Linked DNA regions of Homo sapiens. The protein of the gene in region 1 purifies or fractionates together with the protein of each later gene. This does not show direct contact. Each region holds a gene or a part of one and is shown on either strand. Other genes may lie near its edges. The genes, in order: FAHD2A and BOLA3.

Evidence for each region.
Region 2: the proteins of FAHD2A (region 1) and BOLA3 purify together in Homo sapiens (affinity purification with mass spectrometry; 3 studies listed by BioGRID and IntAct, with this or other methods). This does not show direct contact.

What each region holds. Positions count from the first base shown.
Region 1 is NC_000002.12:95,393,625-95,411,047, forward strand, and holds the start of FAHD2A (oxaloacetate tautomerase FAHD2A, mitochondrial), read left to right. Parts: upstream 1-9,083; 5' UTR 9,084-9,248; exon of another isoform or gene 9,249-9,368; intron 9,369-9,375; exon of another isoform or gene 9,376-11,778; intron 11,779-11,928; 5' UTR 11,929-11,934; coding exon 11,935-12,179; intron 12,180-13,316; coding exon 13,317-13,533; intron 13,534-16,902; coding exon 16,903-16,962; intron 16,963-17,239; coding exon 17,240-17,402; intron 17,403-17,423. UniProt on the Homo sapiens protein: Tautomerase that converts enol-oxaloacetate, a strong inhibitor of succinate dehydrogenase, to the physiological keto form of oxaloacetate. It is thereby required to maximize aerobic respiration efficiency by preventing succinate dehydrogenase inhibition.
Region 2 is NC_000002.12:74,135,904-74,147,336, forward strand, and holds part of BOLA3 (bolA-like protein 3), read right to left. Parts: intron 9,401-11,433; coding exon 9,286-9,400; intron 6,458-9,285; coding exon 6,369-6,457; intron 1-6,368. UniProt on the Homo sapiens protein: Acts as a mitochondrial iron-sulfur (Fe-S) cluster assembly factor that facilitates (Fe-S) cluster insertion into a subset of mitochondrial proteins. Probably acts together with NFU1.

The DNA.
Region 1 (17,423 bases):
TAGTGGCAGATAAGAGCTGGAGCTCAGGCAGTGGGGAGGGGATAGCTAAGCTGCAGGAGCAGGTGGCTCAGGTTCTTTTGATGGCAAGTTCAGTTGCATTGCTTCCTCTCCCTCCATCCCTGCCTATGGCTTTCTGCATGTTCTTTAGGATCAGTTTACTGAGGAAGAAGAAACTCAAGCAAGACTTACTAATGGATCTGTACAATCGGCCTATACCACCCAAAAGTGACAAACTGCACATGGCAGCCCCACTCAGGGATGACTCTGAAGGGCAGTGGTGAAGGAAGTCCTCCCATTAGATAGAACTTTAAGCAGTATATTTGGCTGTCTGGAGTAAGAGATGGCGGAAAGTATGGTGGCAGGAATGGGGTCTATGCATGGTCTCAACTATGTGGATTTCCCCTTCTCAAGGTGGACCTGGCTGACGCTACTGCTCAGACTCAGTCAGCCAACAACAGAGACCAATGTCAAGTCCCTGCTATGGCACCATTCCCCATGGAAACTGGCCAGCCACCTGGTGTCAGGTTGATTACACTGGACCTCCTCCATCATGGAAGAGGCAGAGGTTTTCCCCGATAGGACACATATTCTAGAGGGTTTCAACTTCCCTGCCCAGCATCGTCTATGGACTATAAGAAGCGGGAGTGCTTCTCTCACGAGTACATCTAATAACCTCACTTACAGCAGTTTTGTTTCTTGTCCTGGCCACTTTGAGCTCTGCTGGCTTGGAGATATTAGTACTCAAAGGGACAGTGCTTCCCCCAGGAGACAGAGAAGTTAAGACTGCTTCCTGGTCATGTTGGGTTCCTTATGCCACTGAATCAACAGGCAAAACAAGAGGGTTGATCCAGTGGCTGCAGCGATGGGTCGATCCAGTGGCTGCAGCGATGGGTCCTGATGACCAAGGGGAAAATTTGGTTCCAAGGGAAATATGGTTGCTACAATAGATGCAAGATTCCAGCGAGTTTCACCAGTGTAAAACTACAGCATCCTGTCTGCCGTCTCCAGCGAGATCTGGCTCTCATGGTCTGTGGGGTGGGAGCTTCTTCCTTGGGTGCTTCCTTGTATCTTAGGAGTTTGGCTGCTTTTTTTTTTTTTTTTTTTGAGACAGGGTCTCCCTCTGTACCCCAGGCTGGAGTACAGTGGCGTGATCATGGCTCACTGCAGCCTCAATCTCCCTGCCTCAAGTAATCCTCCCAGCTCAGCCTTCTGAGTAGCTGCAACCACAGATGCACACCACCATGGCTGGCTAATTTTTTTATTTTTTATTGTAGAGACAGGGTCTCACTATGTCGCCCAGGCTGGTCTCAAACTCCTGGGCCCACGAGATCTTCCTGCCTTGGCCTGCAAAGGGCTGGTATTACAGGCATAAAACACCACGCCCAACTTGGCTGCTCCTTATATCTAGTTCTTCCTTAGTCCTTAGAGTTCTCTTTACTTGTTACCAGCCTATCCCTCATGGCTCCAATCCCCTGTCATAGTTGCTACTTCCCTGTATTAAACTCAGTCTGTTCCAATCCCTGTGTGATTTCTCTCTCCTGATCAGACCTAGACTGATGCACTGTCCTGAGAGCCAGGAGGCAGCTGGGTCACTGATTAGAACCTAGTTGTGATGAACTGGATTGTGCCCTCTCCTCATCCACATGTTGAAGTCCTAACCCCAGTACCTCAGAATGTGACTGGATTTGGTGATAGCGCCTTTAAAGAGGTAATGCAATTAAAATGAGGGCTCTAGGGTGGGCACTAATCCAACCTGATTGGCATCCTTATAAGGAGAGGAAATTAGGACACATAAAGAGACACAAGTGCCATGTGTGCACAGAGGGACAACCATGTGCAGAGGCAGCCAGGAGACAGCCACCTGTAAGCCAAGGAGAAAGGCCTCAGAAGAACCCAGCCCACCGACACTATGATCTCAGACTCCTGGCCTCCAGAACTGAGGTGACAAATTGCTGCTGTTTAAGCCCCCCAGGCTATGGTACTTTTTGCAGCAGCCAAGCAGGCTGACAGGCTAGCTGTGGAAGGAATGCAGGGTCCTTCCCCCATACTCTACTTGTCAGAAGTGAATTGCTAGGTTCCGCCCGCAATAAAGGCAATGGACATGGAAGACATGTCAAATAATTTGAGGACATGTTTTTAAATCACCACAGAGGCCATAGTGGGAGTGCAGCCAGCAGGGTCAAATAGCGTCTTGGCCTGGATGGTGGGAAGTCTATTGGTTCAGATGATGTGGGGAGGTAAAGTTGCCAGGATGTGAAGATGCAAATGGGAATGACGTGGGGAAACGGCAAAGACTGAATTCTGGCTTGGGGTCTGCCCAGGTGGATGGTCAGAGGATGCCATGACATCCTCTGAGATACAGAAGAGGACCACATTTGATGTGGAAAAATCATGAGTTCATGTTGAGCTTGTGGTGCCTTTGAGACATCAAAATGAAAGTGTCCAATAAACAGCTGAGTTTATGGAGATGGACACATGTGAGTCTTCTTTCTGTACGTGGCAACTAAACCATCAAGCCTGTAGTTGATGTTGTGAAAATGTGGCCTGAGGGATCCTACTGAGTGAGAAGAGACATAAGTACCGTGCTTTGAGAGGCAGCAACATTTATAGGTTGGATGGAGGAGAGTGAGTCTGAAAAATGACTGAGATAGAGGAGGAAAATTCAAGACAATGTGATATGATGGAAGACCTATCAATAGAGACTATGTTTGGCTGCAAGTAACAGGGATCCAGAATAATAGTAGCTTTTAAAACCATAGATTTGTTTTTTCTCTCTTGCATAAAAGGCCAACAGAGCATTGTTTGGCATTGGTTTGGCAGCTCAACAATCCTCAGGGATCCAGCTCCTAGCTCCGGTAACCTGTCACCTCAAGGCCAGAGATGGCCCTTCATGCTCCAGCCATCACATTCACATTTCAGCCAGCAGAAAGAAAGAAGGGTGAAGAGTAAGGGACTGCGGATTCTTTTTAAATAATTCCTTTAACTCCCAAACTTTTCTATTTAGATCTTGCTAACCAGACTAACTCTCATGGTCTCATGTAGCCTCAAAGCATGACTGAGAAATGAATCTCTCTATTCTATGCAGCCACATATCTAGCAAATAAATGGTGTTTTACTGCTGAGGAAGAGGGAAAGAAAGAATACTGGAGGGCAACCAGTCACCTCTGCTGGGAAGCCATGGGAAGGCAGTATTTAAAGCACAGGGAAATGGCCCAGAGAGGCCAAGAGTGCTTAGAGGTAATGATAAAAAGTGTCTTTTGAGCCGGGCATGGTGGTGGGTGCCCCTGTAGTCCCAGCTACTTAGGAGGCTGAGGCAGGAGAATCGCTTGAACCCAGAGGCGGAGGTTGCAGTGAGCTGAGATCGCGCCACTGCACTCCAGCCTGGGTGACAGAGCGAGACTCCATCTCAACAACAACAACAACAACAAAAGTGTCTTTTGGTCTTAGCACCATGGAAATCACTGGGGACTTAAGTAAGACTTGTTTCAGTGGAAGGATGGGGGCAAAGGTCAGATCAGGATGAATGAGGAATGAATGGGAGACAAGGAAATCAAAGCGAAGATTCATATGGGAATTAAGCTCCTGTAGGAGACTTTCCAAGGAAGGTTGGTGAGCGATGTGGGAGGGGCAGCTGGAGGGAAGTGGGGCCAAAGAAGAGTTTTGCTTGGTTTTGTTTAAGATAGAGAGATCTGAGCATGGGGGAAGGACGTGCAGAAGAGGCAGAGCCCTGCTCAAGAGGAATACGGGGTAATTCTCAGTGTAAGGCAACCAAGGTGCAGGGGCTCCTGCACAGGACTTGAGGCCTGGAAAGGGGTCGTTCCTCATCAGCGGGGCTAGCACATGGCAGGTGCCGGTGTGGAGGGTCTGAGGGCATGGGAGTAGGAAATGGAGGGCATTCACCCCAAGTGAGGGCTTCTGTTTTCTCTGTTAAACATGCGAGTTACCAACCAGAGCGAGGGTGAGGCAGAGAGAGGAGCAAGCCGCCTGTGGGGCTGGGCGTGCATTGAGGCAGTGACAAAGAATTCATGGCAAAACCAACCCACATCATAAGGGTGGCCATAGAGAAAGCAGGGTTCAAAAGCTTTTATTTCCCCTTTGATTATTCAGCCACATTGTCAATGGAAAAAGTCACAAAATGTAGAAATTTAGCCAGGAGAGCTTTATCTCTTAGAAAGGGTTGCCACCTGCAGGATGGACATCCCACAGGTGGGGAAACGTGGCCTTTAGCAGAAACCAAAAGCAGGCACTTCAGAGGAAAAAGCGGAGAGGCTGAGGTGTATGCCCAAAGACAGGAACTATACATACATATTCAGTAAGTTATGAGACCCTTATGAATATTTATGAGGGGATCCTAACACATGCAACTGAATAATCCTGTGTGTTGCATACAACCCATGTTCACTTTGGGGTGGAAACATAACATTAAATGCCTAAAATTAGGCTCTATAGGTCAAAAGGTAGAAGAACATTAGCCAGGTGCAGTGGTGTGTGCCTGTGGTCCCAGCTACTTGGGAGGCCAAGGTGGGAGGATGGCTTGAGCCCAGGAGGCAGAGGTTGCAGTGAGTCAGCATCATGCCACTGTACTCCAGCCTGGGCAACAGAGCCAGGTCTGCCTTAAAAAAAAAAGAACACAAAGGTACTCAGTGCGCAGCCTCTATAAACTGGCCAGAACCAGCCCATGGTCAGTGGTGTCTTATCAGGAGAAAATTACTGAAGTCAGTCTCTTGTTCAATCAAACCTGTAGTTATGCTTTGTGGAATGGAGTCTGGAGTCTGGGGGCATCAGTTAGCATCTGACAATTGGTAAGTTAGAACATTTATTATTTTAGTGTAGGGGTATGTGACTTTTGCCTGGCATGGCCTTAGTCTTATTTATAATTTCATAATTTATAAGCCACAAAGACTCCATTCCATCAGTCTTATGATCTCTGTTTTACAACCCTGGATTTGTCCAGCTCTCCACCATCTCTTGTCCTAGGTACAAGCAGTTTCTCCAAGGAGGTGTCTACACCCAAACAACCACTGGCCTGTTTCCTGTCACTACACATTCATTTGCATTTCTAGTGTACTGTAGCCCCTTCTTTTTTTTTTTTTTTTTTTTGAGATGGAGTCTCGCTCTGTTGCCCAGGGTGGAGTGCAGTGGCGCAATCTCGGCTCACTGCAAGCTCCACCTCCTGGGTTCACGCCATTCTCCTGCCTCAGCCTCCCAAGTAGCGGGGACCACAGGTGCCCGCCACCACGCTTGGCTAACTTTTTGTATATTTAGTAGAGACAGGGTTTCACCGTGTTAGCCAGGATGGTCTCGATCTCTTGACCTCGTGATCCACCCGCCTTGGCCTCCCAAAGTGCTGGGAATTCAGGTGTGAGCCACCACGCCTGGCCTGTAGTCCCTTCTTATCCATGGTTTTGCTTTCTGAAATTTCAGTTACTCAAGGTCATCCATGGCCCAAAAATATTAACTGGAAAATTGCAGCAATAAGCAATTCATAAGTTTTAAATTGTGTGCTGCTCTGTGTACTGTGATGAAATCCTGCACTGTCCTGCTCCATCCTACCTGGGACAAGAATCATTCCTCTGTTCAGCTTTTCCATGACGTCTGCCCTCCTTGCCCCTTAGTCACCAATGAGCTGGCTCCGTGATTAGATCCACTGTCGTGGTACCGCAGTGCTTCTGTGCAAGGCACCATCATCTGACTTCATAATGGCCCCAGAGCAAAAGGGGAGTGGTGTCGGCATTTCCGATATGCCAAAGAGAAGCCTTCCTTTATGGGAACGCTCCTGACTTAAGGAAATAAAACAAAAATCACATAATGAGGTTGCTAAGAGCTACAGAAAGAACGAATCTTCTATCCATGAAATTGTGAAGAAGGAAAAAGAAATTTGTGCCAGTTTTGCTGTCGCACCTCAAACTGCAAAAGTTATGGCTACAGTGTGTGAGAAGCACTTAGTTAGGATGGAAAAGGCATTAGATTTGTGGGTGGAAGACGTGAACAGAAACATATTCTGATTGAACAGCAACCGTGTAGCACCAGGTTAACTTCATCTGGATTAAATTTGATCACTGGCATGTATATATAGGAAAAGACGTAGCAGATGTAGGGTTTGGTACTATCTGCAGTTTCAGGCGTCCTCTAGGGGTCTTGGAAAGTACCCCCCAAGGATACTCTATACAAATGAAATAATTCCATATGTACTCATTTTTAATCTCTTTTTCACTCTGAATAATTATCTTGATATATATCCATGTTGCATCAACAATTTGTCCCTTTTCATTGCTGGGTAGTATTCCCTAGTGTGGCTATAACAGAGTGTTTACACATTCACCTGTTAATGAAAAATTGAGTTGTTTCCAGTTTGGGGATTTTGTAAAAAGGCTGCTGTGAACATTTCTGTATAAGCCATTGCATAAGCATTTTTTTTAAATTTCTCAGGTAATTACTATAAAACAAAAAAACAAATCTGGATTATATAAGGAGCGAATTTATTCCAAAGGATTGTTGTGGGGGTGACCATTGCAATAGGGAAACGTTGCAGTGCGGCCACTCGCAGGCTTCCCATATGATCTGCAAGTGTCTCAGAGGTTAGGCAAAGGGCTGATCTTGTATAGGGAGGCGTAAACGTGGCTAGAAAGAACTGTTATGGGAAAGTGGGCTGAGCAAGAGTGTCACGATCGAGGAGGTCTTACCCTGCGGACAGCCTGTTCTCAGGAGGGAACCTCAGGAGGGCTGCGGGTTGGCACAAGCTGTGGGTGGGCCAAAGCTCAAGGGCTTGGAAAAGGAGAGAATCTGAACCAAGGTTTGGTTACAGGCTTTTGTTCTTATTGATCTGTGGGACAAGCAGCCCAGCTAATCATTTATGAGGCCAAGAATGGGAATTTAGAGGGTCTGTGTCTGGCCTGGTCACAGATAAACAAGGGAGCATCTGGGAGTCTTATCCAGGTTATATAGAAAGTCACTGGTTCTTTCCAGTAGGGGGTTTTCTGGAACAAAAGAGTGGTGGGATTCCTTAACCTTCACTATTTCTAGAAGCAAAGGGCTAAGGTAAAATTCAATACTGTCAATAGTCAGGATTGAAATGGCTACATCATATGGTAGGTGTATGTTTAATTCTCTTCATACACTGACAAATGGTTTTCGATCGTGGTGGTACTATTTTATAATCCCATCAGCAGTGTACAAGAATCCCAGGTCCTCCACATTCTTGCCAGTACTTGGTATAATCAGTCTTCTTTGTCCATTCTAGTAGGTGTGAGATGGTGTCACATTGCGCTTGCAATTTGCATATCCTTAATGATTAATGATGTTGAGCATCTTTTCATGTCCTAATTTTTTCTTTCTTTTTTTTTTTGAGACAGAGTCTTGCTTTGTCGCCCAGGCTGGAGTGCAGTGGCACGATCTCGGCTCACTGCAAGCTCCACCTCCCGGGTTCCCGCCACTCTTCTGCCTCAGCCTCCCCAGTAGCTAGGACTACAGGCGCCCACCACCACGCTCGGCTAATTTTTTGTATTTTTAGTAGAGATGGGGTTTAACTGTGTTAGCCAGGATGGTCTCGATCTCCTGACCTTGTGATCCGCCTGCCTCGGCCTCCCAAAATGCTGGGATTGCAGGCGTGAGCCACTGCGCCCAGCCTTCATGTCCCAATTTTCTGTCTGTATATCTTATTTGATGAAATGTCAGTTCAAATATTTTGTCCATCTAAAAAATTGAATTGTTTGATTTTATCTACTGACTTTTAAGCATTCTTTCTATATTCTGGATACAAGTCTTTTTATCAAATATAGCCTTTACAGATATTTTCTTCCAGGCTGTAACTTAGCTTTTCAGAAAGTCTTTGGGAGCTATGGCTTAGTGAAACCCTTGTGCCAGGTTCTCCTCAGCGAATCCCCCTGATCACAGCCACCCCCATAGGTTCCATTTCAATATCTGTGGTGACCTTCTGCAAGCTAGGCTGAAGTCCCAAGCTCCAGACCCATGTCTCCAACTGCCCACCGTTCAATGCCCTTTGGATGTCCCATGCAAATCGGAGCTCACCATCCTCTCCCCAGACCCGCTGCTCCTCCAGGAGCCCTGTCTCCATGAACGGCCCTGCACCTACCGAGCTAGAGACCCAGGAGTTGGCCTTGTACCTCCTTCCTTCTCACTTCCACCTCCTGTCATTCAGAGCTGTCAGTTCTTCCTCCTGAACATCTCTGGACACTCACCTTCTCCACCACGCACCGCACCACCATTGTTCTCAACCGCACCACCCACCCAGACACCTTTCCTCAGACGGGTGGCCAGAGAAAAACTTCTCAAATAGAAGTCGGGACATGGCACGCCACTGAGAACCTTCCAGCGGTCTCCTGTGCACGTAAACAAGGTCCAGACTCCTTCGTGGGACAAGTAAAGCTCTTGATGATCTGGTCCTTGAGTAATGTGGGGGCCACTTGTACAGAGCCCCTCACACTGTTCAAAGTCGGCAGCTGAAGAGCTGAGCAGTAGCTGTCTGTGGAGTTCAGCTGCCACTCCCTACACGCCTGCCCTCTGCAGGGGATGGAGTCCCGTTTCCCCACTTCCCCACCTGCGCCCAGCAGTGCAGGTGAAGGCCTGGCTGCGGAGAGTGGCTGGGAAACGCTGCGCTTTGGGGTCAGGAATGCCAGCTCCACTACTCACCGCCTGTGTCACCCTGGGAAAACAGCTCTGGCCCCAGGTTCTCCATAAGTAAAACGGGGGCAGTCATCCCTCCCCTCCTCAACGACATATGTCAGAATCAGAAGCCACAAATCATTCTCTGCCACCCAGCACGCTGCCTTGGTCTCCTAGACCACTTTCCCCAACAATGGGAAAGGCGCCAGGCCCAGAACAAGGCCGAGACCGGATGAGGCCAGCGAAGCGCCCAGGGACAAACCTTCGGGCAGCGCCCACTCTCGAGTTCAGGCAAGTGCAGGGTCCCTCCGAGAGAGAGCGTCTCCAGAGAACGCGGCTGGCGCCTGGCTGAACCCGTAGCCTGAAGACCCGCCGGAGCCGCCCGCCCCACGATGGGCCCGCCCCTCCGGGATTGGCGCCCTGCTAGTGGCCATTGCCTGTGACGTCACAGGATCGCGCCCGCTTTTCTCTCGGGTGATCCGGCCGAGTGGCCCTGGGTTAGCAGCTGCTGCATTTCCCCGGCTGGCTGCGGTCACTGGTGGCAGTGCTCAGGCGCCCGCCGCCCTTGACCTTCGGCCCCGCGAGCTCTAACCCTACAGCGCAGGAAGATCGGCCGCCGCGGCCAGGTAGGACGAGCCTGGCTGGGTCTAGGCCAGAAGGGTGTCCGTGGCGCCGGTCTCCCGCGGAGCGCAGAACTAGTACCGGATCCCCAGCCGCTTCTGACCACACAGACGGGGCGGACCTGTGTGAGCACTCACTAACTGTCGGGGCTGGAGCTGGGCATATGGGGAAACTGGGGGACCGGCACGGGTTCCAGGCGAGTGGACGGTGGGATGGAATCCGACGTGCACACCCATGTCTCAGGCTTTGTTTGATGGAGGCTACTGTTTCCACCTCATGTCGCCGCCCCTTTGCTTATGGACTCTTGCAGAGTTGGATTGAGCTCGGGCTGTGTGATATAGTGGTTGTTGCAGAAGCCCCAGGGCCACTTTCTGACTAGTACCTTGGGCACCTGACATCATCCCTTTGAGTCTCAGTGTCCTCTTCTTTAAAGTGAGGGCGCTCTACCTGAGGAGATTGCTGTAAGGTTGGAATGAACCTGCATGTGTGTGTCATGTGGGAAGGGAACAGTCAGTGGGGCCTGGGGTTCTCTTGGAGAGCTGGTAACCAGCCTCGTCCCTGAGGCAACAGCCAGAGGGCGCCTGTAGTTTCCCCACGCATGTCTGTTAGCAGTTACGGCCTCTGGAGGATCTCCTGTGGGAGGTCCCTACTTCTCACTACAATCTTTAGAGACTTTGGAGGATTTCCTATGGAAGGTCCCCACTTCTCACCACAACATTCTGGGTTAAAATGGCCTTGGTAGGGGGATGGGGGCTGAAGCTGGATTTTTTTGCTTGCATTACAAGCTTCTGAACCAAGGACTTCATGTCACCTGGACTTGGATTCACATCCCAGCTCCTTCCTCTCCTAGCTCTAGGACTGTGTAACCTTGGGCAAATCTCTTAACCTCTTTAAGCCTTAATTGTTTCATCTGTAAAATGAGGCTAACAGTACCTACCTTCCACAATTGTCGAGAATTAAATCAGACATTGTAGGTAGAGCACTTAATAGTTGGCATTCAGCGGCAGCAGTTACTGTTATGTTAGCATGTGGAGTGTCTGAGTGTGTGCACATTGGCTCGAACAGCCTTTTGACAGTGGCACAGTTGGTGCTTGTGTAAGACAGCAGGGCAGAGAAGTCAAAGCCCTCGGTTTTCTAGTCAAACTGGTGGGCCACAACAGTGGTGACCTAAGTCTAATGAATCTTCAACTGAACAAGGCAGATTGAATCTCCAGGTGAGGACCAAGAGTCTGGGGATCAGCTGCCTCCACATTTTTGGGCATAGAAGGCTGTACAATACCGCCTTTGTTGTAAGAGCAAGGAACCATTCAGGGAAGGCACCATGTGGTAAGGAATAGAGGCCAGACGTGGATTAAGAACAAAACAAGAGAATAGTGTTTGTCTTTAAGTGGAGCCTTGGACTCAAAACAGGATCTGAGCCCTGAGGATTTTTTTTTTTTTAATTGAGATGGAGTCTTCGTCTGTCACCCAGGCTGGAGTGCAGTGGCGCGATCTCAGCTCACTGCAACCTCCTTCCCCTGGGTTCAAGCGATTCTCGTGTCTCAGCCTCCCTAGTAGCTGGGATTACAGGTGGCTGCCACCACACTCGGCGAGTTTTTTGTATTTTTAGTGGAAACGGGGTTTCACCACGTTGGCCAGGCTGGTCTTGAACTCCTGACCTCAAGTGATCCACCCACCTCGGCCTCCCAAATTGTTAGGGATATCACGCATGAGCCACTACAACTGGCCCTTGTGGGAAGGCACAGCCATGTCTCCTGAAGTTAACAAGCACTAAGCTTTCCCAAGTAGTGAAATGTCAAGCCCCTGCTTCTGTCACTTATTTGTTCATTCAGCAGAAAGTCACTGAGAGCCTTCTGTGCACCAGGCACAGTGCTGGGCAGTGAAAGAGACAGACATGTGCCCTGGACCCAGGGAGATGACAAGTGATGGCTGTCAGGCCCAGACCCTGTTGTTTGTCTGCAGCCTCTTCCCTCAGGCAACTTGTTCTCTATCAGGAGAAACGAAATAATTATTATCTGGAGAGGCAGGTGGGGGCGCTGCTCCTAGAAGACTGGGACAGCCTGGTAGAGGTTCTAGCTTGATCATGTGAGCAGTGGAAACCATTTTAAGTAGGAGGTTAACAGGACCAAAATAGCATTTAAAAAATTGTTTATGGCCACTGTGAAGCCAGTTTCACCAGCGTCACTTGCCCATGCTGGGCTGCCACCCAGCTAATTCCTGGTCCTGCTCATTTAGCCCAGCTCAGCTCACATCACTTCCTCCAGAAACTAGAGAAGGGTAGAGCCCCTGACCATCTTCACAGCATTAGTCCTGATAGCTGAATCTTACGTCAGTTGTTAACATCTGTGACCTGTGCAGGGAGAATGGCAGGGCTGAGTTTCACCTACATTGTTTCCCCAATACCTACAGCAGAGCCAAGCACAGTGGGAACTTTCAGAAAGCACTGGTTGAAGGAACGCTGGAATCCCTGGGACTTACTGCGTAGCATGTAGTAGTTGCTCCTCTAGAAAAGTTTCACCTTATGAAGTATAGCAGGTAAAATACAAGCCTGGACCACTTCCCGTGTGGTATGCAGGGAACGGTTGATGGGGCAAAGGGCCTCGGGCTATAGCCCTAGGAATTTCAGGGAACCTGATGATGGCTCTGGGATCCTCTGTCTCCTGGATCCTGCATTTTTCTCTGCAGGCTCTGATGCTGGTGTCTGGTAGAAGAAGGTTACTCACAGTTCTGCTGCAGGCTCAGAAGTGGCCCTTTCAACCCTCCAGAGACATGAGACTAGTGCAGTTCCGGGCACCCCACCTGGTGGGGCCTCACTTGGGCCTGGAGACAGGGAATGGTGGAGGGGTTATCAACCTCAATGCCTTTGACCCCACACTCCCGAAGACGATGACGCAGTTCCTAGAGCAGGGAGAGGCCACCCTCTCAGTGGCAAGAAGGTAAGTAAGTGGGCAGCATCGCCCTGAAGCAGCTGCCCTGGTCCCCCTGCACCCTCCCCGCTCTGGGAAACAGCACCAGCAGGTAGCTCTTTTGCAAGGGAGCAGAGTAACCCCACCTTTCCTTTTCTCCCGTTCTCTTAAAAGATCCTTAGAAATCTTACATAATAACATCTTCAGTTTTCAGAGGAGAAAACTGAGAGCTAGGGGAGGTGATTAACAATTTGAAGGCCATACATGTGGTGCTGGAACCAGGACTCTATACTTCATCACACTGCCTCCTCTGGGAATGAAGTCCTGGACTGACTGACGGGTCTGGGCCCGGGGGTCCTAAAAGGCATCTTATGCAGCTGGGGGAGTGATATAGACTCCCAGCTCCTACAAGGAGAGAGGACTGCAAGGAGGTTTTCTATAAGACACTTGGTTCCTGGGTTTGGACTAGATTAGGTGAGAGTGTCCCTGAAGCCTGGACCCCTATAGAATCTGGTCTAAGGAGCTGATGAACAATAAATTAAAAATACTTTAAGATGTCATTTTCATCTATTAAAATGGAAAAAAATACAAATGTTTCACAGCTCACAGTATTAACAGTATGTTCCCATATTGCCATATTCTGCAAAGACTGGAAATCTCCATGCCCCTCATTAGGGACTTGGGTATATCTCTATAGAGCAGTAATATGCAGCCACAAGAAATAAAGAGGACACTCTCTATGTATTGTTACATATTGTTAAGCAGAGATCTCCAAAATCAGTTGTTTTTTTAAAAGATGTAAATAGTATGCTATCATTTGCATACAAAAGGGTGGGAGAAGAATATCCATAGAGTAGCTGCGAAGAGCCAGGGGAACGGGGTAACCGGAAGGGGAAAGGGAAACCTTTCCATGTATTCCAGTTTGTATCTTTTACATGGACATGAGTTACCTAAGGGGGAGAGGAAATCAACACTGGATAAATAAAAGCCCTGCTCTGATAGCAAAGGACAATAGTCAGTGATTTTCACACTGACTCTGATGGTTGATAGAGCTAGGAAATAGATTTCAAAAAGCAAAACCTGTAGCTGCTGCAGGATCTGCCCAGCCTGCCCGGGATTGCCCACCTGTTCCCAGCCAGACCCTCTCACCTGCTCTGGTCTCTACAGAGCCCTGGCTGCCCAGTTGCCAGTCCTACCACGGTCGGAGGTAACCTTCCTGGCTCCAGTCACACGACCAGATAAGGTGGTGTGTGTGGGCATGAATTATGTGGACCACTGCAAAGAACAGAACGTGCCCGTGCCCAAGGAGCCCATCATCTTCAGCAAGTTTGCCAGCTCCATCGTGGGGCCCTATGATGAGGTGGTCCTCCCACCACAGAGCCAGGTCAGTGTCTCCCCACTGCCCTCCCTAGTCACTGGGCCCATCACAAGGGCATTCTGAGCTCAGTATTGAGCCTACTGGAGCCACCTCTCGCTCAATAGCGCATTCAGCAGAAACTCTACAGGATTGTACACACAGTAGTAACACTGGCCTTGGAAAAAAAAAGTTAATGTACGTGTTTTCCTGGTTACAAAAGCAATGCACCTTCACTGTAGATAATAAAATAGAGATAAACATTAAAAAATTATGTCACCCATAATCCCACTGCCCATGGCTCGGAATATTAATGTTTTTCTGTCTACCTTCCCAGTGTTTCTCCGCTCCTGTATATGTTTATACTGTACATATACTTACCTTTTACTTAAGACTCCATCAGGAGCATTTTTTCATGCCATTAAGTATTCGCCCTGACACCACGGAGTTTGTTATGTAGATTAGTTTATTCCTGAGTACCTTACTGCTGGATACTGTTTCTAGTTTTTGGCTTCTATAAATAAATGTTGCAGTAAACATCCTTATGTGGAAAAGGCTTTGCATGTCCATTAATACATTATTATTTCCTTTGAATAAACCCTTTGGAATTTAAATATGTCAGCGTATAGGCAGTATTTCAAAATTTTTGAAAAATTCTGCCAATTGGCCTTTTAAAAAATTGTAAAAGCAACTTACACATCCACCAGTAGTGTATATACCCTTTCTAACACTGGTTACTTTTTCTCTCAGATTTTTATTTTAGAAATGTCTTGAAAATTATAGAAAAGCTGGGAAAATAATACAGTGAACACTCAGATAACTTTTCCACCTGGTTTCATTGTAAACATTTGGCCATATATCCTTTTTCTCCCTTGTCTTCTCCCTGCCCTCCACATGGCAAACACACATTTTTTTTTTTTTTTTTTTTTTTTGCAGGGTATGGGGTGGAGGGGACCTTTTAAAACACATTGGAAATATTAAGACAATTTAGTCATAAAAACGTAAATAGGCATCTTCTAAGAATAAGGACAATGGCTTGCATGACCATCCCACCATTATCACAACCAAAAAAATTAACTTGAATAATATTTAATATGAAATCCAATTGCCCCAATTCCCAATCGGAAGTACTGCTGACTTCCCCAAAGATAACTTCTAATTTGGTTACTTCGTTTGTTGCTCCATGATCAACCAAGGCCACACACTGTATTCAGTTATATCTCTTTAGTGGTTTCAATCTAGGACAGGGTTCCATAGACTTTTTCTTAAAGGGCTGTATTAGTCTGTTTTCATGCTGCTGATAAAGACATATCCGAGACTGAGCAATTTACAAAAAAAAGAGGTTTAATTGGACTTACAGTTCCACGTGGCTAGGGAAGCCTCACAATCATGGCAGAAGGCAAGGAGGAGCAAGTCACATCTTAGGTGGATAGCAGCAGGCAGAAAAGAGCTTGTGCAGAGAAACTCCCATTTTTAAAACTATCAGATCTCATGAGACCCATTCACTATCATGAGAACAGCACGGGAAAGACCTGCCCCCATGATTCAGTCATCTCCCACCGGGTCCGTCCCATAGCACGTTAGAATTATGGGAGCTACAAGTTGAGATTTGGGTGGGGACACAGAGCTAAACCATATCAAGGGCCAATTAGTAAATATTAGGCTTTGCGTGTCATATGTTCTGTTTTGCAACAATTCAACTCTGCTGTTATAGTGTGAAAACCACGATACAGAAATGAATGATGGGTTTCCAATCAAAGTTGATTATAGCAGATGTTGAGCTGGCCATAGTTTGCCAACTCCTGCTCTCAAACAATACCCCCTGCCCTTTCCTTGAAGAATCCAGTTGTCTCATAGCATGTTTCACATTCTGGGTTTGTCTGGTTGTTTCTTCATGATTAGTGTCAGGGTAAGCATTTTTATCAAGAGATCTACAAAGCAGATGTTATACATTTTCCATCGTATCCCACTGGGAGGCTCATGTCAGTGGTCCCAGAATTTGACCACTTGGTTTAGCTGACATTCACTAGGTCCCTCCATTGTGAAGATGCATTTCTATTTTTGTAATAAGCAATCCATGGGTGGTAGTTTGAGATCACATAACTATCTTATTGCCCCATAGCATCTCATCCAGGGATCCTGTGGTCATCCTGACTGAATCTATTATTGCACTGGGGGTTAGAGAACAATGACCTTTTTTTTTTTTGAGACAGAGTCTCACTCTATTGTGCAGATGGAGTGCAGTGGCATAATTTCAGCACACCTCTGCCTCCTGGGTTCAAGTGATTCTCCTGCCTCAGCCTCCTGAGTAGCTGGGATTATAGGCGTGTACCACCACACCTGGCTAATTTTTGTATGTTTAGTAGAGACGGGGTTTCATCATGTTGGCTAGGCTGGTCTTGAACTCCTCACCTGAGGTGATCCACCTGACTTGGCCTCCCACAGTGCTGGGATTACAGACGTGACCCACCACTCCCAGACAAGATCAATGACTTCTCAATCATGCCTTCTGTTTTTATTGGCTGGCATTCTTCTATGAAGAAAAGCTGCCTCCCTCCTTTTTATTCCTGTCTTCAATATCACTGTGAATTCTGTTTTTACTCAATTGTTTGTAATTCATCATTTACATTCTTTAGGTGACCTCAGTTTGGCCAGTGAGGGGCCTTCAAGTTGGCTCCATTCCCGTCACTTTTAGTATATCCTAGCTTTCTGGCCAAGATGTTCTAGGCTTATCATGTACTGTCTGTCTTGGAACTGGAATTGGCCGTTTCCCCAAGGAACCCAGTGCTCCTTAGTGGGGAGTGGTATTAGAGACCAACATCTGGATGTCGGGTGTACTTACACCAACTCTGGTTATTATTAGAAAGAGCCACCAATTTTAAAGGCCAAATTATATCTATTTTATAGTGTATTTTATGGATTATGGGAGAGGCTGAGCATTTCTTCATGTTTTGTGGCCATGTCCGTTACCTTTTTGTGAATTGCTTACTCAAGTCCTTTGTGGGAGTTAATAGATTAAAACACTTAGAACAGTGCCTGACACACAGTAGGGTTACATATTGCTAGGGGATATTACTTCGTATTTATCCTTTGTTAAAAGTATCCAGAGTGACTTTTAAACTCAGTGCCCTGGACACGTGTTGCTCTTCTGCAGTCAGTGGTGTGGGGACCTGTGCCTGCATCCCATGATGCTGTCTGCCACTGCCCAAAATGTATGGGTCTACAAGTCACACCTCCCTTGTCATTCACTGGGCTCTGGTTCGTGGTGATGGCAAACATGGGATGGCAGCGAAGCCATACTGACAAAGGTTGAGGCCCTTCAGCATGGTGTGCAGCCTCTCAGCATGGACAGTGGGCCCTGAAGCCACTGCAGCTCACTGTTCCTCTCCCACCCTACAGGAGGTAGATTGGGAAGTGGAGCTGGCCGTGGTCATTGGAAAGAAAGGCAAGCACATCAAGGTGAGGTGGAAAGGGTGGGCTCCCAGTCCAGAGTGCAGCAGAGGCCCCAGCTCCTGCCTCTCCTAGTTCTGACCCCACTCACCAACACACGGTGCCAGCTGTCCCTGACACTAGGAAGCAGTCAGCCTCCTTGCTCCCTGACACTGCCTTTCCCTTCACCCACCTTTGGCTGGCTCTGGCTACTAACATGGGATAACAGCTTAGAGATCCCTTGCCATAGGTGTTGGTGTCACCCATGATCTAACCTCCTGTATGGCCAAATCCCCTGCCCCCATAGGCCACAGATGCTATGGCCCACGTGGCCGGCTTCACTGTGGCTCATGACGTGAGTGCTCGTGACTGGCAAATGAGACGTAATGGGAAACAATGGCTGCTGGGAAAAACCTTCGACACCTTCTGCCCTCTGGGCCCTGCCTTGGTGACCAAGGACAGTGTAGCAGGTAGGTCCCTGGTCCCTGCCC
Region 2 (11,433 bases), about 21 Mb from region 1:
TCCACCCTTGTTCCCAAAAGAACTGTTGTTAGTTTCTTGTGTATCTTTTTTTTTTTTTTTTTTTAAGTCATGGTCTCGCTCTAGCGCCGAAGTTGGAGTGCAGTGGCGCGATATCGGCTTACTGCAAACTCCACCTCCTGGGCTCAAACAATCTTCCTGCTTCAGCCTCCCTAGTAGCTGGGACTACAGGCACATGCCACCATGCCTGGCTAATTTTTTTATTTTTTGTAGAGGCAGGGTCTCACTATATTGCCTAGGCTGGTCTTGAACTCCTGGACTGGAGCAATCTGCCTGTCTTGGCTTCCCAAAGTGCCGGAATTACAAGCGTGAGCCACTGCACCTGGCCAGTTTCTTGTGTATCTTTACAGGGACTTAAAAATGCATATTCACCAGGCATATTCAAGCTAATATATTTCACCCCATGACCTTTTAAAACGCAAATGGTTAAAATTTCAAACACATTACACCAAGCTTGTCCAACCCACGGCCCATGACAGCTTTGAATGTGGCCTAATATAAATTCGTAAACTTTCATAAAACATTTTGAGATTTTTTTTGAAATTTTTTTTAAAGCTCATCAGCTATCATTAGTGTTAGTATATTTTATGTGTGGCCCAAGAGAATTCTTCTTCCATTGTGGCCCAAGGAAGCCAAAGGACTGGACACCCCTGCTCTACACTTTGCTCTTCCCCCAAACATCTATCTTGGAGATCTTTCTATGTTAGGCATATATGGGTGTCCTGATTCTTTTTTGCATCAGCATAGTATTCCATTATATGAATGCATTATAACTTTTCAACCTGTCCCCTAGCGAACTTTTAGGCTGTTTCCTGTGTTTTGTTATTTCGAGCATCAAGCATTCTTTAAAATGAGCAGTTCTTTAAAATCATACCAATTAGCACAAATTCCCCAATGGTCAGAGCAGGAAATAAAGTTTCAAAGGAATTATGGGACTTGTTTTAAGGCTACAAATGGTGTCAGAGCCCAAATCTGAAGGAACTACCAGAGTCAAATAGATATTTGGCCCCTGTAGTGCTGGGAGAAAGTGAGGTTACAGAATCAGAGTGGGGCTTGGACCGCTCAAGTTTATAATCAGTACAGAGGAAGAAATAAGGTCCTTTTATACTAGGCCAAAATCTGATAATCATACTAGAGTGGACATTTTTCTTTTCTAGTCTCTTTAGTGATCTCCTTCTCTTGGGGAATAATTCCTTTTCCACTCTATTGTATAATTCTGGTGGAACCACCAATTGGTCTGATATTGAGGTCATTATGTGCCACTGGCCCAGCCTATGATTGGACCGAGGTGGCACATGACCCAAATTGGGCCACTTAGAATCTCCCTTGGGATTTCTGAGAGTGGAGCCTTGTTTCTTGGGCCAACATGCTATGAAATTAATTGGAGGTGGCCATGGACTGTGTTTCCCACCAAGGAGAGAAAGCCCATCTTTAGCAGGAGAAAAGGAGACCAACACAGGGAAAGAAGCTGAAAGCTCAGAGAGAGAGAGGAATCTAGATATGCCAGAAACCAGATAATTTTGTTACATGGGCCAATTAATTCCCTTTGTTTGCTTATGCTAATTTTAATTTGGTCTCTGTCTCTTACAATATAAAGAATCCTAATATATGTGGTCAGGTTTATAGATCCTTAGACACAATCTAGTCCCATCCCCTTATTTAATTAAAAAAAAAAAATAGAGTCTACTCCTTGTCCAAAGTCAGCAAACAAGCGAGTAATGGAATCAGGATATGAACCCAGGTATCCTGAGGTCCTGGCCATACCTGGTTTCCATCATGTTCCTGACTTGCCCTGATCCGGGAGCTCCTGTTGTGTTGGGGGACAATGAGCTGCCCCACTTGGCCTACACTGCACACCCTCCAGCTCCACAATCAAGTGCAGGGCCCTCAACTCTGCGGACAGGCAGAAATGTCCCTGGAAAAAGCCTCATATAATCACTGGGCGAAGGTCCCTGGGCCACTTGCTCTCTGCAGGCGTGGAATGCTCCCTAGAGACTGTGTCTGTGCCTGGACCACAACCAGCCTCTCCTCCTTACATCCACCTTGGCTGGGTGAGGGCCCAGTCACACCTTCATGTGACTGACCCTGGACAGAGGAACCTTCTGGGCTTCACCCACTCAGGCCCTGCGCACTCCCCCTCCCTGATGCCTTCTCCCTGCTCTCTGTGCAGCCCCTGAGGGCTTCCCAAAACACACTACAGTCCCTTACAGCCACACAGGGTCTTAGAGATCACCTGAGTCACTCTACAGTTAAGGAAACTGGGGCCCTGCTGGGGGAAGTGACTTGGCCGAAGTCCCATGGGTAATAAGATGCAGCTTGGATAACCATTCTTAAGCACCTGCTATGCCCACAGCACTATAGTAGGTGCTGGGGACACAGAGGAAAAGGCGTGGGAAAGTAATGAAAGAGAAAGTAGCATTAAGTCCAACACAAATGGGCTGAATGTGGGCAGCAGAGGACTGCCAGACTCAAGCCAGCACAGCCCTGCTTCCGGTGTTCGAGGTGAGCTACTGCACTGGTGACTGGGGTGGACGCACAAGGGCCACACACAGGAGGCAGCCCTGGAGCTGGAGCCAGAGGTGGAGCAGGCAAGAGTGAGAGGGCATCTGCCCCAGGACAGCAAAGTGAGGAGAGGCTGGGAAGCTCCCGTGATTCACTGAGGTAGGCACATGTCAGGGAGACTGAGGCAGATCACATGAAGAATGGGCAATCCCAGGCTAGGAAGACTGGACTGGATTCTGGGCAACCAGGGGAGCCACGTAAAGGCTCTGAGCAGGGGAAAGACATTGGTGGAGGCGCCTTAGGGGAGGGCAATCCCCTAAGCTGGAAAGAGGCCGGAGGCAGGGAGACGGCAACAGCTGTTTAGCAACTGCCTTCCACGTGGCAGGCACGACGCTGGGCACCTGTGGTCAATGCCTCATGCAATATTTGCCAATATGAGGCTCAAATCTCACCTCTGTCCACCTCAAAAGGCAACTCAGTGATCACCGTGGCTACCTACCTACTCTACCCTTGCTGACACCTCCCCAGGATGGCAGGAGGACAGGTAGGGAGGTGCTCCTGGTACAAAACCCTCAACATCTAGGCCTCCTAGGGCGTGGCCCACAGCAAATGCCCAGTAAGTATTTCCCAAGAGAAGGCTGACGCACTGGGCCCTGGGAGAGGCTGAGCCCCGCGCAGCAGGGTCCCAGAGGAACGAGTCCATTCCTGAGGGTGCCGACAGGGGGCGCCCCCTCCAGGGAATCCCGCAGGGACAGTCTGATGGGAAGCTCAGGAGGGATGCCAGTATCGGATGGGTTGGGCGACCTTTTCAGGCCTTTTGGGCAGAAAATTCTGACTCTACAGCACCAGGATGAACACTACTACGCATAGGGTGAGTAGGCAAAATAGATGAGGCAAGCTTCACCCCGTCAGGACACCAGGCCCCCACCCAAACAGCCTGGGCATGAGAGCATCTGGATGGGGCACCTACCCCACCCCCACCTCACTCCTGAAGAGACCAGCTGGCCCTGGGAGTGGAGTCCAGTTACCACCTTGCCTTCCCCTTGATTCCAGGTCTCTGCCTCCTCCTAGGGCAGTGCCTGTCAGAACCCCATTCCCAACAGCTGTCCTGAGCAGGGCAGCTCCAGGTCCCGGCTCAGACCCTGCCGGCCAACAGACTTGTTCCTGAAGATTTTCATTTTCATTCTTCTCATGCGACTGTCAAAGCCAACATCTCCAGACTTAAATCATCTAAAATTGCCTATGACCAAGTCCATATATTTTAACACAAGTGTCAGCCCCCTAAGAATGTACTGTGGCCAGGCTCAGGGGACCCCCTCATGTCAGCTGCCTGCAGACATCCAGTGTGGAGCTGCATGACCCCCCCAAGTCCTGAGCCAGAAGGGCTGTTCTGGCTGGGGGCAGAGGAGAGGCCTCTAGAATAACTCAGGATGCAGCTGCTCTGGGCACAGTGGCTCACGCCTGTAATCCCAACACTTAGGGAGGCCGAGGCAGGAGGATCGTCAAGGAGTTCAAGACCAGCCTGGGCAGCATAGTGGAACCCCATCTCTATATAAATATAAAAATGTATATTTTTAAGGTTGGGCATGGTGGCTCATGCCTGTAATCCCAGCACTTTGGGAGGCCGAGGCAGGTGGATCACCTGAAGTCAGGAGTTCGAGACCAGCCTGGCCAACATGGTGAAACCCCATCTCTACTAAAAATACTAAAATTAGCCAGGTGTGGTGGCGGGCGCCTGTAGTCCCAGCTACTTGGGAGGCTGAGGCAGAAGAATTGCTTGAACCCAGGAGGCAGAGGTTGCAGTGAGCCGAGATAGCGCCACTGCACTCCAGCCTGGGTGACAGAGTGATACTCTGTGGGAGGGAAAAAAAAGAAGTATATATTTTTAAAAAGTGCCCCAATGTCAGGATGTGAGTTCTCCAAAACAGAATGCCTTTCAGATACTAAAACATAATTTCCATGGGTAAGCCAATAAGAAAACACAAGCCAACTCTCCTCACTCTCTGCAAACTCTCAAGAAATACTGACTGGGCTCCTTCCATGTGCCAGGTCCTTTGTTAGGTGTGGGGGACACAGCCCCGTCCTGCAGTAAGCCTGCTTTCGAGGGGGAATGAAAGACAAGTGACTGGGCTGTCTACTCAGGAAGTGTGAGGAGAGGCACATGTTGCTATAGGGGGCCAGAAGACACCTTAATCCCAAGACCGTGAGGTGACACTCCCCCAAACTGTGGGAATCACAGCCCTTCCCCACCCCAGACTGGTGCAGGTTCCTTCCAGTGTTGGAGATGACAATGATGGTGATGGCGGTCACATTTATGGAAGGCTTACTATGTGTCGGGCAGTGTTGTCAGTGGTCAACGTGTACTTTATCACGAATCCTCACAGCAACACTTTGAAGCAAGTACTGTTACTCTCAATTAGGAAACTGAGGCAAAGGGTGAGGTTGAAAAACTTGCTCAAGGTCACATGGCTAGAAAGTAGCAAAGCCCAGATTTGAAAGTGGGAAGTCCAATTCCAGAAACTGCTTCCTTAACCACTTGTAACTGTGGTTTCAGGCCAAGGGACACACTCAAATTACCAGCACCTATGGGTCCAGTCACACCAGGTGGCTTGTACAGATCTGAGAATAAAACCCAAAGTGCCACGGGTTGGGGATCATCTGGCCAGCCAGGTCTTCCCTGTCTTGTCTTCTGCCTTGATTCTGACCCCAGAGATCACATGGGACTGCAAGAGTTTCCGGGAGGGCTCAGTGATGGAGCACCCAGCAGACCACCAGCATGCCTTAGGGCTGTAGGGGTCACATCCACTGCAAAGGGCTACGTTCCATGAGAAACACAAAGATGGATCCCAAAGGGCACTGGTCCACAAAGGGCTGACAGGTTGCAGGGTCAGACAGCAGAGATGTCCGTTTTCAGGACACAAGACGGAAAACACCGACAGCCAAAAAAGGGGGCCGGGGAGGGTGGGGGAACGGCATTCATTCCCTGCTGGGGAGGGAGGGGAGGCAGCATTTGAGCTGAGTGGAGGACGGGAGGAAGGGCAACCCAGGCAGAAGGTCCAATCTGGGCAAAGGCCCAGATAGAGAAAGAGAGAGACCAGCGGGCAGAGGCCGGCTGGGAGGGTGCACGCAGAGAAGGGTGGGGGGAAATGCGTGAACAGCAGTCTAGGACACCTGAACTCAATGCATGAGAGGCCACCGAAGAGACGCTCATTACCAGTGCTGTGCTTTACAAAAATAACACTAGTTCACAATGGCAAGACCTTCCAGAACGATGCCAAACACACCCAGTGAGGGGGCAAATTCATAGGTACAGGTACAAGGGTCAAAGTTGGTATAAATTCCAAATTAAAATAAATATGGATAATATTTAAACTGAGCCTTAGGCTGGTTGAACGTGATGTTCCAGAACCCAAATGTTCTGTCATTGGGTCTGGGGCAGCTGCAGCCATTCTCACTCATGCCATGCATCAACTGACTCATCTGTAAAGCAGTCCCAAAGAGAGGCCAAAAAACCCCTCTTCAGATCTACAAAAACATGTATCTTTTAGCAGTGTCTGTGTTTAGATATACTCATCAATATGTGACAATAACAGTAAACATAGGTAGCATTATACGAGGACATACAAAATCACTATTGGGAGGCCTGTCTTCAATTTTGAATAAAATTCCTATTTGCCACAATGCAGATACTCCCAGATTCGATTTTTCTCAGGTCTTGAGTCCTGTTTCGTGATTGCAGTACTGCATTATTCTCTCCTGCAACTGACGGCAAAAACCACCATCCCTGCTTGGCAGGCCCCTTTGGAGGCTGAAGGCCAGTGGCAAGGGGCACTGTTGCCTCTACTGACCTGATTAACCATCTGGTGCTGCTGGACAGTTCTCTTCTCCTTAAATTCTTCTGATTCAATTTTAATTTCATACATCGCCCCACAACCTCCTAAAATAAACATGATTCAAAAGCATTTCAATTATTAAGTCATGGCAGCCATGGTCCCATATATCCTTGAAGTACTGTACAATCCAAAGGTCTGAATATTATCATTCAGCACAAAGGAAAGTTGCTAAGACCATTAGGAAAAGATCATGGCTTCCAATCTGACCACATGCTCCTCCTGACAGGCTGCCACAATCCAAAATGTGCTCTTCCTTTTGCGAGGCAGCTGCACCACCCAGGGTTACCACTTGTGGGCAGGAAAGATAAGGCACAAAGCATGGACAACCTAGGGAGTGTAGAGTGTTTCCTTTCACTAGGCCAATAAACGCCACGGAAGAGGATGAGAAGGACGGAATTTCAGCGTTCCAGCTTCCAAAGGACCAACAATCAGTGTTTTTGAAGTGCAAAAATACACTACAATTTGGTTTGAAAACTGTGTAATACTGTCCAAAGAAAGGAAAGAACCAGGGGAGCATGAGAGCCAGGGACACAGCAAACATGCTATGCATGGAGCTGCTCGGGGCTGTCTCTGGCACTGCTGGGTCCACAGCACAGCATCCAGGATTTCATCCTGGCTTTTGGGGGGAGAACTTTTTGGTGAAGCCCTCGAGGCAGAGCTTGGTGGGCCATCCACCCCCTGCCTGAGCTTTCCTCCACCTGGCTGGAGAGCTGGTGCTGATGACTGATGATAAACACACAGCTCTAGCATGAAATAACATGGGCAAGAATATGTCCCCTGCATGATTTACAGAGCCAGGCCATTGTGTGAGAGGTGCAACGTACTCAACAGGCTTTGCTCTGCTTCTTTTTTTTTTTGAGATGGAGTCTCGCTCTGTCGCCCAGGCTGGAGTGCAGTGGCACGATCTGGGCTCACTGCAAGCTCCGCCTCCCAGGTTCACACCATTCTCCTGCCTCAGCCTCCTGAGTAGCTGGGACTATAGGCACACACCATCATGCCCAGCTAATTTTTTTTTTGTATTTTTAGTAGAGACGGGGTTTCACCGTGTTAGCCAGGATGGTCTCGATCTCCTGACCTCGTGATCCACCCGCCTCGGCCTCCCAAAGTGCTGGGATTACAGGCGTGAGCCACCGCGCCTGGCCTGTTCTGTTTTTCTTATAATGTGCTCTAGGAGTCCAAGTTTTGGTTAAACCCAGGTTCTCAGCCTCAACTCCCCTTCTGCACTCTGTCCAGGACTGCGCAGAGCCACAGCTGAGTCAAGCTCTAACTCTGCCCTGGGCCTGGGGCAAGTTCAGGACCTGGTAACATCAAGGCCTCAGCATTGCCCCAAGACTCCTGCAGAGCCCTCACCTGATGTACCATTCCAGCAGATTTTTTTTTTCTTTTTGAGACAGAGTTTCGCTCTTGTCGCCCAGGCTGGAGTGCAGTGGTGCAATCTCAGCTCACTGCAACCTCTGCCTCCCAGGTTCAAGCGATTCTCCTGCCTCAGCCTCCTGAGTAGCTGGGATTACAGGTGCCTGCTACCATGCCTGGCTAATTTTTTTTTTTTTTTTGTATTTCTGGTTGAGATGGGGTTTCACCATGTTGGCCAGGCTGGTCTCGAACTCCTGACCTCAGGTGATCCACCTGCCTCAGCCTCCCAAAGTGCTGGGATTACAGACATGAGCCACCGCGCCTGGCCCCAGCAGATTTTTTTTTTTTTTTTTTGAGACACAGTCTCGCTCTGTCACCCAGGCTGGAGTGCAGTGGCATGATCTTGGCTCACTGCAGCCTCCGCCTCCCGGGTTCAAGCAAGTCTCCTGCCTCAGACTCTTGAGTAGCTGGGACTACAGGCGTGTGCCACCACGCCCAGTTAATTTTTGTATTTTTAGTAGAGACGGGGGGGTTTCACCATGTTGGCCAGGCTGGTCTTGAACTCCTGACCTCGTGATCCACCTGCCTCAGCCTCTCAAAGTGCTGGGATTACAGGCATGAGCCACTGCTCCAAAACCCCAGCAGATCTTTAGATTGATTTATTTCCTGTGGTTTCCAGAATAAAATCTACTTTCTAAACTTTCTCCTCAATCCTTGGAAATGTTATGTTCTCAGTAAAGTCAGTGAGCCCTCATGGCAATGCTGAGTGGCAAAGGCTGCCTCTGGGTATGGAGAGATTCAGACTGATGCCTATCCAGCGGCCCACGCCACGGGCCGTTCTGTGTGTACGTGTGTGTGTGTGTGTGGATAAAGGGCCTATCTTCCCCATCCTGTGGATGCAGAAGTTGCTTCTCCAGCCTGCTCCTAACACACTGCCAGCCTGAACTTCTAGGTGCCAGTGGCCACCTGAGAAGGACAGCGCTTGGCTGGGGCTGGTAACTGGGCTTAGGACAGAGTCTCCCCTGAGTCCCGGTTCTGGTTCCAGTTCCACTGTCTCTTCCCTATGAGGAGCTAGGCAATTCCTTTGGCCTCTCTGGGCTCATTTCCTCTTAGGGAAAGTAAAGCAGCTGAAGAAAATCTTTCTGGGGTCCACTCCAGCTCTGATATCCTAGGGTGTCAGAAGAATGGGGGAAAATTAGAGCAAAACCTATTCAAAGTCAAATGACAGACTGTGGACCTCAGCTCTAGGGTGACTGAGAGGGACCTTGTCTGAGCTGAGCCAGGCTGGCAACCTTGAGTCCTCCCAGCTGCGCCTTGTCCTCAGTTTCCCTCTGATATTTCTGAATCCTGACTGCCATCCCATGAGGTGGGGGCAGCCGAGCTCCACCTGTCCAGCAGCAACACATCTTGAGAAGCCACTCACCAGCAGCAAGCCCCCTCCTCCAAGCCCCTGACCCTCTGTCCTTCCAAAGGGCAAAATCTTATCCAAGCGCCGTAGGAAGAGTGAGAGAAACCTTACCTGAAATGTCAGTGACTTTTATAGCTGTAGCTCGTGGAAACTTTTCTTTGAGAATTTGGGTCACTCTGAGCTCCCCCTCAGTCTGAGTGGCAAACATCCGATGGTGAAGTGGAAGCTGCCACAGAACAGAGAGGAAGGTCAGGGCAGAGGAAGATGCTGTTGCCCCTGAGCTGGGCCACTGTGCAGGCCCGCCTGCCATTCCCCCTGCAAGGCAGGCCCCTGAGCCCTCGCCAGCACAGCCATGGGTTATGTCAGAGGGGCTCTGTGGTATCAGGAGTCCATGTAAGTGCCCCAAAACACAGAATAAACTTTTATTGGCGGGGACAGGATGATTGTTAATAACTCAATTTGACTCCAGAGACAAGAGGCCCCAAACCTAATTCAAGAGATGTTTGCTTCCATATAATGTTGTGACACTATTATGCCGATAGTTTTATAGGTAAGGAAACTGAGGCACACAGTAATGTGCCCAAGGTTGAATTCGGTAAGATACAGAGCCAGAAAAGCTGGATAGCCTGCCTCAGATCCATACCACTAGGCCATCCACTGCCCTGGATGGTGGGGCCAAATTCCACACTCCCTCGCCTTTAGGCCTGATTAACATGTCTCGCCCTCCCCAGTGGGATGTGACCTCACAGCCCACTGCTCAATTAGCCAGCTATCCTTCATCATGCACTCCTTCTCACTGGGAGCAAAGTCAGAATTCTATGAAAGAACCTGAAGAAGGAGTATCTGTAGGTTGTTTACCATTGGCAACAACACCCCTTCCCCAATGGCTACCATGGGGGAACCTGTGTTTGTGTTTCCTTTTTTTTTTTTTTTGAGACAGAGTTTTGCTCTGTTACCCAGGCTGGAGTGCAGTGGCACAATCTCAGCTCACTGCAACTTCCACCTCCCGGGTTCAAGCGATTCTCCTGCCCCAGCCTCCTGAGTAGCTGGGATTCCAGGCACCCACCACCACGCTCGGCAAATTTTTGTATTTTTAGTAGAGATGAGGTTTCACCATGTTGGCCAGGCTGGTCTCAAACCCCTGACCTCAGGTGATCCACCCACCTCAACCTCCCAAAATTCTAGGATTACAGGCATGAGCCACCACGCCCGGCCAGGGGAGCCCATGTTTCTGATGGAACACGTCTCAACAGTTAGTAGTGAAGGAGCAGAAAAGCAGGTCGGCAGTCACTTGGCTGGGCTGAGTGCATGCTGAAAAGGCAGACTGGGAATGGAGTGTGGCAGGCCTTGAATGCCAGGCTAAAGATTGTGGACTGTATGGGACAGGAGATGGGACTCCAGGTGATAGAACCCAGGCTCATGGGACCAAAGTAACCTGCAGGAAACAGTGCCTTCTGGAGCGAGTCAGGAGAGATGCCCAAGTAAGAGGCATTACAATGATGGAAGCACCGGGCACTGGTCCCTGACTAGACGTGGATGACAGGTTGGAGGACACTAGGGCCGTTCATGGGTGCTGGTGCTGAAGGTCCCACCCCTCTACCCCTCAGTCCTTCCTGATAGCTCAGAGCAGGGTCCTGTGTCACAGAATCTCAGAGCACCTCCTTTAAAATGAGCTGTGCACTGGCTCTCTCACCACTGGTCTTATAGGCCAGGAATGAGTCCGGCAGCATCCCAGAGCTGACCCCAGGGCAGGCCCTCAGAGGCACTTGGTGCTGGATGAATGAATGAGCAGGGGAAGAACTAGTCAATTAGGGACAGAAATGCAAGACAGGAGAAAGGTCCAGAGTGTGATTGTCTGCCTGCTGTGTGGAGGGACAGAAACTCGATGTTGAGAGGCTGGACAGGATTGCCAGGAGTGAGGGTGGGGTGGAGCTGCTTCTGGGGGCAGAATCTTGAGGGTAAAGGCAGAGAGTAACCAGATGGCAGACAGAATCGGCAGCTACTAAGGGGTGAGAGAGGTGAGCGTTGCAGAATCCTTGGGAGAAGCCTTTCATCTTAGCGGATCTGTGGGCAGCGGCCTTTAGTGGAACAATCAACTGACATCCCCAGATGATCACTGTCCACGCTGAAAGTCACCGCAGTGGAAGAACTTCTCTTCATGCACAGGGCAGGCAGGTTCAGAACCAGGGGAGAAGGAAAATGAAAGTTAAGAGAAAGAATGGTATGAGCTGAAGCAAAGGATGGTTCAGAAAGGGGGAG